Regions from separate parts of the Homo sapiens genome. Here all the other regions are linked to region 2. Evidence: fine-mapped expression QTL. A gene starts in region 2. Each other region holds a variant in brackets. All regions are shown on one strand. Distances are from middle to middle.

The links.
Region 1: its variant is fine-mapped to the expression of NTSR1 in cerebral cortex (GTEx, PIP above 0.99).
Region 3: its variant is fine-mapped to the expression of NTSR1 in whole blood (TOPMed, PIP above 0.99). The same link has a PIP of 0.9 or more in T cells, blood mononuclear cells and macrophages.

Annotation. Positions count from the first base shown.
Region 1 is chr20:62,733,472-62,737,534 of GRCh38, reverse strand. The region is part of intron 1 of NTSR1 (neurotensin receptor 1); the gene reads right to left. NTSR1-AS1 (NTSR1 antisense RNA 1) reads left to right here and starts at 2,176. Exons shown (of 2, transcript NR_199009.1): 1 at 2,176-2,309. RefSeq lists an enhancer at 1,907-2,752. The variant A/G (reference allele first, on the strand shown) is at 2,386.
Region 2 is chr20:62,706,610-62,710,672 of GRCh38, reverse strand. NTSR1 (neurotensin receptor 1) reads right to left here and starts at 1,837. Exons shown (of 4, transcript NM_002531.3): 1 at 752-1,837. The coding sequence starts at 1,465. RefSeq lists enhancers at 546-1,090, 1,091-1,637, 1,847-2,359, 2,360-2,873.
Region 3 is chr20:62,743,241-62,747,303 of GRCh38, reverse strand. All of the region lies in intron 1 of NTSR1 (neurotensin receptor 1), which reads right to left. Among named protein-coding and RNA genes, the nearest start is that of NTSR1-AS1, 9.9 kb to the right of the region's middle. The variant T/C (reference allele first, on the strand shown) is at 2,508.

The DNA.
Region 1 (4,063 bases), 27 kb before region 2:
CCCATGCTCGGCCCCTCCCTGCAAGTAGGACAAGTGGCCCCACAGAGGTCACGTGCCTGCCGCTGTGCCTGATGAGCAGGGGTGCAGCCGTGAGTCAAGGGGCTCTCCGACTGCACGGAGGGAGCCATTTCACCTCTGGACACGCATCCTAGGGTGGGGTGGGTGAATGCTTTCTGTGAAGGTCCAGAGAGTGAGTCACTGTGGCTTCGTGGGCCGGAGGATCTCAACTTTTGAGCAGAACCACTCACTGTGGCCGCTGTGGCCAACACAGCCATAGCAGTACGTACATGAGCAGGTGGGGCTGAGTGCTGATGAAACTTTACAACTCCAGGTGGGTCTGGGTTGGCCCCGTCCTCACGAACACGGGGCTGATCATCGCACCATCCATCCGGGAAAGACTGGGCCCAGGCCAAGTGTGTGAGTCCATTTTCGCACTGCTCTAAAGAACTGCCGAGACTGTGTAGTTTATAAAGGAAAGAGGTTGAATTGACTCACAGTTCTGCAGGGCTGGGGGAGCCTCAGGAGACCTACAATCATGGTGGAGGGAGAAGCAGGCACTTTCTTCACTGGGCAGCAGGACGGTGTGAGTGACAGCAGGGCAAACGCCAGACGCTTCTAAAACCATCAGATCTCATGAGATTCACTCTCACAAGAACTGCCTGGGGGAACCGCCCCCACGATCCAGTCACCTCCCCCTGGTCCTGCCCTTGACACGGGGCATTATGGGGATTACAATTCCCATGAGATTTTGGGTGGGGACACAGCCAAACACATCACGAAGTAACTCCTACGCCAGGTGTGTGCATGTGGCCTGGGCCCTGGTCACAGATGGAAAATGAAGCAGTAAAACAGAGGAGGGTCTCAGCTTGCGGGTCCTATGCTGAGGGTCCAGGTTGTTCCCTGGGAGCCACAGGCCAGGGCCTCGGAGTCCTCGGAGTCCTCGCTGGGAAAGGGGCTCTGCTGGAGGTTTGGGCCCGCCCTGCATAGCTGGGAGCCCTCTCTTTGCCCCACCCACAGGTGGAAGCCACTTCCCTCCTCTCCCAAACCCCCTCTCCTGGTTCCCCAGTTGGAGTGATCCACAGAGGAGATTCTGCGTCTAAACTGGGACTCAGGGAAGCTTCTGGAACTGTGAGAGGGGTTTGGTTCCTGCCTTTCTGAAGACAAAGTGGCGCCTGTCTTTCAGGGCATTGCGCCTGAGGGTACAGAGAGTGGGGCTCTGCCTCTGGGGTCCCAGGGTCTCCCCAGCTGCCAAGGGCAGCAGCCCCAGACCCAGACAGGGAAAGGAGCCTGGCTTCCCTTCCCGCCCTGCTCCATGGGGCAAGTGCAGAGAATCCCCAGCCACGATGCCCCTGCCCGAGGCACCCCAGGCTCCAGGCAGATCTCAGGCCTCCTAACCCAGGCCCTGCCCCGAAGGGACAAGTTTCAGAACAAACTGTCCACTGGGCTAATACCCCGGCTTTTGTGATCACCACATACTGATTTCTATCGAGGGATGAAAATTGACAAATTTAAACGGGAATTACTGGGCTCGGAAATTTGTTCTTTGTAATGAAGGGAACAGTTGAATACAGAATCTGAATTTGGGATTCAGACCAGACCCCCTCAGAGAAAGTGCTGAACCCGTGAGGAATTGGAGGGTAAGGGGAACTGTTCTTGGCAACTCCTGTCCCATTTCCTTTTGGGATGGGGGCTGCTCCCGCCCCCTGCACAGCCCCACAGGTCACAGCGGGGAAGACCCTGTCCCTGGTCCCCGGTCGCAGTGTGTGCCCTTTCCTACTTCCCTGCACGCCAGCCTCAGGAGGTGAGCTCACCTCGCCGTGTCGGGGGGACTCCCGTGTTACCCACCCCCCAAGCCAGGGAGCGGCCTCCAGGGGAGCATGGGGGAGGCTGAGGCCACCTTGCGGGGAGGCTGTTCCTGGGGCTGGGACGCCTCTCTCTGAATCATCCCCGCCCACAGAAGGAATTCATCTCACTCCTAATAATGTGTTTGTCACAAAGACATAATCGGCTCATCTGTGAGACTCCAGCGTGCACAGCGGTGCTGGCTCTTTGTTGTATAGTGGCAGTCTCACTGCAAGGCCGTTGGGCTTTGAGGAAAGGGAAGGAGGCACCCACTCTCTCCCCGGGGGGCCCCTGCCTTCCCTCGCAGTCCCACCTCTTCCGCCTGCCTCCATCACAGCAATTCAAATAACTATGAATGGGGCTACCTGGGAGCCCCACATCCCTGGCTGTGGGAACAGGCTGACCTTCCAGCACAGTGTCCTCCTGGTGCCAGGCACTGCCCCTCTGCCAAGGACCCTGCAGGCCTGGTAGGTCCCCAAGGGCACCCGTGGCCTCCCACCCCCTAACCATGGTTTTGGCACTGAGCTGGCGGCCAGGCGGGGC[A/G]GAGGAGGGAGCTGAGCGTCTTTCTTTAGTGTGCACGTCACCGCACACGATGGCACCCCACTGGTTGCTGCCCATCATGCAGGGCTGCCTCCACATGGGGCCTCAGCACCGGCTGGTGCCTGGCACCCCGCACGCGGCACCCCACCCCAAGGGGAGGCTGTACAGGCTCTGGACACACCCCAAAGCCACCCGAGGGCTGCTTCTCATCAGCAGGGAGGGGCTCGGGCAGCACAGTCCCGTGGAAATAGGATGCAGGCCACGTGAGGCTTAAATGTACCAGTAGCTATGTTACAAAAGTGGAAGGAAACAGCTATGATAATTTTAATACGATATCTTATTTAACTTAATGTATTCAAAATATCATATCAACTTGCAACGGTATTAGTGAGCTATTGTATACCGCCTTTCCGCATTAACTCTAAAACCCGGTGCGGATTTCAGGCTGAAGCTCATCTTCACTCAGACCAGCCATGTCTCAATGCCCAGTGGCCACGTGTGGCCCAGGGCTGCCACATTAGACAGGGCTGCCTGCAGCTTTTATGGGAAGCCACCTGGGCCAGGCACACCAGCGCCTGCTCCTCGCTCCCCAGGGGTGGTCTTGGCCCCAGCTCTGCTCAGCAGAGAACCCAGAGCCTCCAGGTCAGCCCCGGACACAGGGCGTGGGCATTGCACAAGGTCAAGAATGAGTTACTCATTTTCAACCACCTAAAAAGATGGCCCCAAAATGAAGCCTGGGTAAGACAAGGGGCCACGTCCTTCCAGGAGCAGAGCTCGGCTTCCTCTGCATCGGCCACAAAGCCCCTACTGCACCGAAGCCCAAGAGCTGAGCCAAGATTTTTTTTTTTTTTTGCGGGGAAGGGGGTCACACTCCAGAGAAGGCTCCAGAAAAGCTCTCATCCCAGACCTCGCTGCCTCCGCCCGCCCCTCACGCCCCATCTCTTGCCCGTCCCCCACCAGGGCTGAAGAGTGAACTCAGTAGTAACCCACGTGGCTGAGCCAGAGAAGGAGGCTGCGCAGGGGACAAGGCGGTCGCTTCCAGGATGAGAAGCGCAGACTCGAGGTCGGGCAAACCTGCCGCCGGCCCCAGCCGTGTGCATCTGAGCAAGTGGCTTCCCCCAGCCTCAGGCTCCTCATCTGTGAAACGAAACCCCCTCCAAGCTGGGCTGGCTCAGCACCCAAAACCATCATTTAAAATGCGACCCTGCCTGGGGGCTGTTCGAATCCTCTATTGAGATAAAGTAGCAATCATACATTCATCAGTCACTACTCCCTGCTGGAGGCCTCTTCCCCAGCACAGAGCCTTCCCTCTCTCAGCTGAGACCCCAGGCAAGGGTAGGGAGAAGAGGGTGCTGTCTCCCTCCCCCTCCTCCCCTCTCTCTCCTCTGTTCCTCCCTTTCTCTCTGTGTCTCTCTCTCCTTCTCTCCCTCTCTTTGTGTTTCTCCCTCTGTTTCTCTCTCTGCCTTTCCCTCTCTCCTCTCTTTCCTTTTCTCTCTCCCTCTCTCTTCTCTATCTCCCTCTTTTTCTCCATGTGTGTATCTCTCCTCCCCATCCCCAGAAGCCAGCCCACATGGCTCACCCTGCATTGCTAGGTGAGACAGGCCTGAGCCCTAAGCCAGGAGTCAGCCACAGCCGAGCTTTCCAGAACTTTCTAGAACCTTCCCTTTCCAAAGTGGAAATC
Region 2 (4,063 bases):
CCACGGCGCTTTGCTCAGACCCTTGGAGGGCCCTTAGTCACTCGGCTCCAGTTTTACACACCTCACCACAACACCGCCGCCACACGCAGATCCTCACAACCTTCCCCGCAGAAACATCGTCCCCACCATCCCGCAATAATAGTGCCTGTGAGCCCTTCTATGTGTCAGGGGCCATGCAAACACTTCCCACGCGTCCTCTCTCCAATGCTCTACCTTCTGAGGTCAATGCTATCACTACCCCATCACACAGATGGGAAAGCTGAGGCTAAACTAGGAACTGGCCCAACACGGCATCAGGTTCTGTTCTGACTCCCAAGTTTGGGTCAGGGCAGGCAGCTGGGAGGCACCGGCAGAGCCAGTCTGGGGGCTTCTCTGCAGAGGAAGGAACATCACCTGTTGGTGGCACAGTCTTTTGAGAAGCTGATGAAAGTGTTACTCTTCCTTTGGAGACGCAGGTGCCAGCGCACATGTTTCCATTAGGCTTAAGGAATTCAGAGATGTCCGAGGCCCAGCCACCAACACCAGAGAGGTCACAGGCAGGGGCTCCATCCCCTCAACAGGAGGGAAGAAGATAGGGGCTGAGCCTGGCAACTCTGGAGCTGCCCCCAAGCTGCCCCAACCGCCTTCCCAGCCTCGCAGGAGTAGACTGTCTCTGTGACATCTCTCCCACTCCCTACCCAGAAGGCACACCACTGGCACTGCTTTTGGGGTGAAGGAGAGGGGAGCCCCGGGGCTGGTTACTGAGGCTCACCTGTATGACGACCTTGACGGTGGCAGTGTGGATGGTGGGGGTGCACACCAGGCCGCCGGCGTGCTGGCCGTCGGCGCTGCGGTTCTGCTCGCCCATGGTGAACAGCATAGGCACCGCCAGCAGGGCCGAGGCGAGCCAGATGGCGCTGATGAACTTCTTGGTGCGGCTTCGGGACATGAGGGTCTTGGCCTTGAAGGGGTGGCAGATGGCCAGGTAGCGCTCCACACTCAGGCTGGCCACGTTGAGGGCCGTGGCGTAGGTGCAGGCGTCGCGCAGGAAGTAGTAGCCGCGGCAGCCGGCGTCGCCGAAGGCCCAGGGGTGGTGCACCCAGATGAAGTTGTACAGCTCCACGGGCATGGCCAGCAGCAGGGTGAGCAGGTCGGACAGCGCCAGGCTGCCCAGGTGGTAATGCACCGTGCTCTGCAGGCTCTGCAGCGACTTCTTCCGCGCCAGCGTGAACGCCGTCACCGTGTTGCCCACCGTGCCCACCACGAAGAGCGCCAGGTACACGGCGGTCACCAGCACCTTGGAGTAGATGTCGGTGTTCACGTCCAGCTCGCTGCTGGGTGCCGCCAGGACGCGCTCCGACGCGTTGCCCGAAGCGTTGCCGAAGCCCGGGGCCAGCAGCGCCTCCTCCAGTCCGGCCTGCGCCCGCTGGAAGGGGTCGGCGGCCGGCGTGCCCGGGGTTCCCGGCGCGGAGCTGTTGAGGCGCATGGTGGGCGCTGGAGTCCGCGGCTCTGTCCGGCGCCTCCGGGGCTGGAAGTCCGGGCAGGAGTGGGCGCGTCTCAGGCGGGGACCGATGAACGGGAGCCCAGGGGAGGGCGCGTGGCGAAGACCAGCGGGCGCGCCGTCCAGTCGGGAAGCGCCAGACCCAGACGCGCCGCCCCGGGCTCCGGGCTCCGGGCTCCGCTCTCCTCCGGACTCCCAGCTTCCGGCTCCTAGCTCCAGAACCCGTGGTTCCTCGGGCTGTCTCCCGGCTCGGCGCTTGCCACGGGTTCCAGGTGCCTCCGATCTCCAAACCGCGCGGTTCCCCAGGCCCCCGAGGACAGCGCCCAGCCCGGCTCGGGCTGCGCGGGGCGAGCTTGTGGCGCCGGGAGGAGCGCACGCACTGCTGCCCGGGCGCGCTCCCCTCCCTCGCTCAGAATCTCCTCCCTCGCGCTCTCCGCGCACCCCAGCCCCGCACACCTCCCGCCGCGCCCGCGCCCTCCCGGCTCTGCGCGTCTCCACGGAGCCGGCGGCCGCGCGGCGCGCCCAGCAGTGGGGGGTGGCGGCGGAGGAGGGAGGCAGCCCCCGCCGCCATCCCCGCCCCGCCCGGGTGCAGCCTGGCGGGTCGCCCCCTCGCGCTCCCCGGGGCAGGGCGGGCTGGGGTGAGCGCTCCAGGGAACCAGGATTCCGAGCGGGCGCGGCGGGTATCGTGCACCAGACCCTTCCTGCCACCCTCTTCCCTGTTCTCCGCAATTTCTCGCACCGGCTAGGAAGGGAACTATGCACCTCCCCCAACCCTGGGCTCGCTCAGTTGGGGTGAGGGTGTATCCGGAGGGCAGGGAGGGAGGAAGCTCCCCGCTGGCAGGGCTGGGCGGCTGCGCAGCTGGTTGGGCCGACCCCCACTCCTGGGTGTCCACAGGGTGCCAGAAGCTGGGTGCCCAGGGGGCTCTAGGACCACTGGAGATTACATTTCTGGTGATTCCTTTTAAAATCTGGCCGCAGTCATGGGCGTGCCTGGTCTGTGAATGCGTATTTCTGGGATGTGCCCAGTGGAAATGGTGGGGGCTCAGGGCATAGTTATCACCTGGGGCAGGATGGCGTGAGGCAGTACCGAGGGACACCTGCAGGGGCTGAGGAGCTGAGGGGCTGGGTCCTGCAGAGGCCGGGAGCCACAGATGGTTTCATCAAAGTCTGGGGAGGGGTGAATGAGGGAGGGCAGAAAGCAGGTGCCCAGAGCAGCACCCTCCCCACTCAGGGCCCTGCATCTGGCACCCTGGGCTGGTCTCATGACGCTATGGGATGTGATGCCCTGGGCCCCTTATTACTGCCTGGATTTGTCATCAGAAGCCACCCTGAGAGCCTGCGCCCCAGCAGGATTTGGGAGAGGCAGCCCCAGCACGCATCCTCCCAGGCCCTGCAGGCTTTGCACACTCCCTCCCTCTGAGTGTCCTCACAGGGTGCCCCGGCCCCTGGCTCGGGAGCCAGGTGAGGGCAAGATTCCTGTCCTTTCCGTGTCCCCCCCAGCACCTGGTGGCACTGGCATAGGTGGCCAGGCACAAGCTTGCCCCCCCCTCCATGTCTGGGTTGCCCAGGGGCCCCCAGGGCACTACTGTCCCTTCTCTGGGCCCTCCCCGCCCCCTCCCCTGCTCCCTCCTCCCCAGAACCCCTGGGAGAGGTTGGGTAGAGCTGCTGCCCCATGTGTGCAGGGCTGGGAGGAGCTGCTCGAGTGCAGCCCAGGGAACCAGCCTGGCCTTTGTGCACATGGCTGGCTGCACCTGCTGTGCTGGGAGCAGGAAACCTGGGCAGGCTGGGGCGGGGGTCGCAGGGTGTTGAGGGAAGCGGGAGGCTGAGGAACCCCCTCCCGGGCCCGCCCAGCTAGGAGAATTCAAGGCTTCTGAGCCGGTGGCTGGCAGCGGGACTCTGTGATTATTCGTCCGTTCTCGCCCTGCTTTGGACTTCTCTGTTCAACCGGAGCCTGATACTCTTGTCAGGGGGCTGCAGCTCACAAACATCAGAGCTTAGAAATCTTGGCATCAAAGGAAACGCCAGTGATCCCTTTGCTGGAAGCCAGTAGATAGGATTGAATGTTGGCCCTGCTACTTCACATTTGGGCGAGTGTGCTTAGCGTCTCTGTGCCTCGATTGAGTCGTCTGTAAAATGGGAATAGCGGCTGAATGAAGGGCAGGGCTGTTACTGATGGGTCTCCACGGGGAATGAACGAGGTCGAATGGGCTGTCGGGTGTGAGGTGAGGTGTTCCATCCAACTAGAATAGGCTGGAGTAGGCCAGATTTGTCCTCTGGAAGACACGATTCACCAGTTAAGTACACAGGTTTTTTTATTTTTTTATTTTTTTTATTTGTTGAGATGGAGTCTCGCTCTGTCACCCAGGCTCGAGGGCAGTGGCGCGATCTTGGCTCACTGCAAGCTCCGCCTCCCAGGTTCTCGCCATTTTCCTGCCTCAGCCTCCCGAATAGCTGGGACTACAGGCGCTAATTTTTTTGTATTTTTAGTAGAGACAGGATTTCACCATGTTAGCCAGGATGGTCTCCATCTCCTGACTTCGTGATCCACCCGCCTTGGCCTCCCAAAGTGCTGGGATTGCTGGC
Region 3 (4,063 bases), 37 kb before region 2:
ATACGTGGCCTTTACACTGAGTGTGGTGTTAGCTGTGGGTCTGTCATACGTGGCCTTTATTGTGTAGCATGCATTCAACACCCAGTTTGTTGAGTGTTTTTATCATGAAAGGATGCTGAGTTTTGTCAAATGCTTTTTCTGTATCAAATGAGATGATCAAATGGCTCTTGTCCTTCCTTCTGTTCATGTGGTGGATCACATTTACTGATTCATATGTGCTGAACTGTGTTTCCATCCCAGGGATAAATCCCACCTGCTCATGGTGGATGAGCCTTTCAACATGCTGTTGAATGAAGTTTGCCAGTATTTTGTTGAAGATTTTTGCCTCTTGGTTCTTTTCTCATAGCGTCCTTCTCTGGCTTTGGTATCAGGGTAATGCTGACCTTGTAAGATGAGTTAGAAAGTGTTCCTTCCTCTTCACATTTTCGGAATTGTATAAGGACTGGTGTTAATTCTTCTTTAAATGTTTGTAGCATCCATCGGCGAAGCAACCTGGCCCTGCCCTGGGGTTTTCTTTTTTGGGAGGTTTTTGGTAACTGATTCAATCTCCTTCTTTGTTATTGGTCCTTTCAGATTTTCCATTTCTCGCGATTGACTCTAGGAAGCTTGTGAGTTTCTAGGAATGTATCCATTTTTTCCAGGCTGTCCAGCTGGTTTGTATAAAATTGTTCACAGTTTATTATGATCCTTTTGATTTCTGTGGCATCTTGTAAAGTCTCCTCTTTCATATCTGATTTTAGCTATGTCTTCTCTCTTTTTTCTTGGTTAGTCTAGCTTCCCTCCACCTTTCTCCCTTCCTCCCTCCCACAAACATCACTGCCTTGGAGAAGCCATAGGAGCCCCTGCCGTCAGAGGTCTTGGATCCTGGGGAGGAGAGACCACTGAAAGAACCACCTGCAGTGACTTCAGGGCCAATAAGAGCTACAGACACAGCGATGCTGGCGGCAGCCTGGCTGCAGTAGTGCTGGGGGTTCCGGGAAGGCCTCTGCTTGGAGGTGACTTCTCATCTCTGACCTGATGGCACCCACAAGCCTACAGGGACCCTAAGCTCTCCTGGCAGACGGTCCAGCAAACTCACAGACCTGAGAACTCAGGGGGTGAGAACTGAACAGGAAGCAGACGGCCAGGCTGGGGTAGTGTGGGGGCCTGGTGGTGACCCGCCGGGCGGCAGCCTTGACCTTCCCCCTGGCTGACCCCTTCTCTGACCTCTGCTAGTGTGGCCCCCGTCCCTGCCCAGGCTGAGCGTCTACCTCTCTAGGCGTCTCAGCCCTGGCCACATAGGGTGGCCTTGAGGGACTTTGTCCAATGGACTCAAGCAGCTTGAAGGCCATGCAGGGCCGGCCAGAGGATGCCTCAGCGCCACTGATGCCACAGCACCCTGGCGCCTTTCGATTTGTCTCTAAAGAGAGCAGGGAGTCACCTGGCCCAGCCCCATGAATATTCTGGGGGACGCGTGGTGGCTGGGACTCCCAGACCGCCTGGCTTTGCAATTCCAAGCAGCAGGGGAGGGTCATGGCCAACAGCAGGGAAGCCCTGGGGACGGCGAGGCTGTTCAGCAGCTGTAGAGAAGGCCATCCAGTCCCAGCGAGGTCCACGCCAAGCTGGATTTGGAGGCGAGGCAGAATATGTGTCTCTGTCTGTCTTTGTATCTTTCTCCTGTGATGTCTCTGTGTTTTTCTCTGTGTTTTTCTGTGTCTCTGTCTCCTTGTATGTTTTCCTTCCTGTGTCTGTCTCTGTTGTGTCTCTCTCTGTATATCTGTGTGTTTTCCTCTGTGTCTCTGTCTTTCACTGTTTTCCTGTGTCTGTCTCTGTCTGTGTGTCTCTGTTGTTCCTGTGTCTCTATCTCTGTATCTCTGTGTCTCTGTTCTCCTGTGTCTCTCTCTGTCTGTTTTCCTGAGTCTGTGTCTCTATCTCTATATCTCTGTGTCTCTGTCTCTATCTCTGTCTCTGTTTTCTTGTGTCTCTGTATCTCTGTCTCTGTGTCTCCCTGTGTCTGTTTTCCTCTATGTGTCTGTTTCTCTGTCTCTGTGTCTCTCTCCATGTCTCTCTGTGTCTCTGCTTTCCTCTCTGTGTCTCTCTCTCTGTCTTTGTGTTGCTGTCTGTCTGGGTCTCCCTCTGAGTCTGGTGTGTGTACCAACATCCTCAGGTGGCAGGAACTGGCTGGGCCACCCTCCCTGGAGCCGGCTGGGTAGCTGGGCTCTGGGCCATGGGCCTCAGTGGCTGGGTCTGAGGTTTTAGGGGTGGATGTTCCAGAGCAGAAGGTCATGGTGGGAGACAGGGGTGTCTGCTGTGACAGCCGTGGTGGTCTGGAGGTGGGGCTGCCTCCATGGGAATCTCATTCGTGCTTCTGGCAGTATCCTCTGCTGTGTGCACCCCTCAGCTGCTACCCCTTGCCTCCTAGCCCTGTCTGGGTCTGGGAATGGCGTTTGAGTGGTTGGTAGGGCCTCAAGCCTCTCAGAAGCAGCCGAATGCCTGGGGTTTGGTGCCAGAAGTGGGGGCCTGGCTTG[T/C]TCCCTGGCCAGCTGTGAGCTCGGCAGGTCCTCCTGGGCCTCAGGCTCATTTCTCTCTTTTTTTTTTGTGAGACTGAGCTTTGCTCTTGTTGCCCAGGCTGGAGTGCAGTGGCGCGATTTCTGCTTATCACAACCTCCGTCTCCCAGGTTCAAGTGATTCTCCTGCCTCAGCCTTCCTGAGTAGCTGGGATTACAGGCATGTGCCACCATGCCTGGCTAATTTTGTATTTTTTTTTTTTTTTGAGACGGAGTCTTGTTCTGTCACCCAGGCTGGAGTGCAGTGGTGTGATCTCAGCTCATTGCAAGCTCCACCTCCCGGGTTCACGCCATTCTCCTGCCTCAGTCTCCCCAGTAGCTGGGACTACAGGTGCACGCCGCCATGCCTGGCTAATTTTTTTGTATTTTTAGTAGAGACAGGGTTTCACCATGTTAGCCAGGATGGTCTCGATCTCCTGACCTCATGACCCGCCCACCTCGGCCTCCCAAAGTGCTGGGATTACAAACACGAGCCACTGCGTCCAGCCCCTCAGCCTCATTTCTAAAAGAGCGAGCCTAGAGGTGCTGCCTCAGTTCCTGGAGCACTGACTGTGCTCCCTTGGGTGTGGGAAAGGAAGCAAATTGGGGGGCACAGGACTGCGGCTTGGGAGGCTGGGATGGGACACGCTGGGGCGACGGCTGGTGGGGCTGGACCTATGGGAGGGACAGCCTGGCCTCTGCCCCCTCGCATGTGTAATTTTGATGGGGAGGACGGAGGTGGAGTGAAAGGTTAGATAATGAAACAGCAGGTGTGTTAGGGGGATCTGGACCGGGGCGCAGCCTCTGGGTGGTTGGTCTGAGCTTGGCCGTGGAGACCAGGTGGGGAGCGGGAGGGGTGCACACGGTATGCCTGCCCACAGGTGAGGGCACAGCCAGACAGCAGGAGGGTGCCCCCGACACAGGCTCCAGACAGCCGGCCTCAGCCCCTCGACCTCAGGCAGGGCGTTCTCACCTCGCTCTTCGAGAGCAATTGCTTGTTTTGTATTCTGCCTTTCTCTCTAATTCATCCCATTGTGTTTAGATCAAGAGACAGCCCCAGACTGGCACACTGCTTCCCGGCTCCGCAGCCAGCCTGTGCTGAGTGGGAAGGTGCAAAACCCTTTTGCTTTGCAGAACCCAGAGGCTTTGTAAGATGGCTGCAGAGGCTGCGGGGCGGGTGGGAGGGGAGGCTCCTGTCCACACCCTCCCAAGGGGGTGACCGCTGGGGTGGCCTTGCTGGGCTGGCAGGGGATCGCCCTCTCCCTGAGCAGATGACCAGCCCCAGCAGGGCCCAGGCTCACGGACGGTCTTTTCTAACCTCCCAGACAGACTCCAGGTGGAGAGGCCCCCACTAGACCCAGCAAACACTGACTTGGGAGCAACCCTCAGGGTTCTCATGACCCCGAACTGCCTTCCCCACCACAGCTGAGGCCAGGAACGATGGCAGAGTTAATTCAGAAACCCTGTGTGCCAGGGCCGTCAGCACAGGCTTGTTCGAAACCCCAATGATTGGTGAACAACTCAAAGGCTCACCCTTTGGG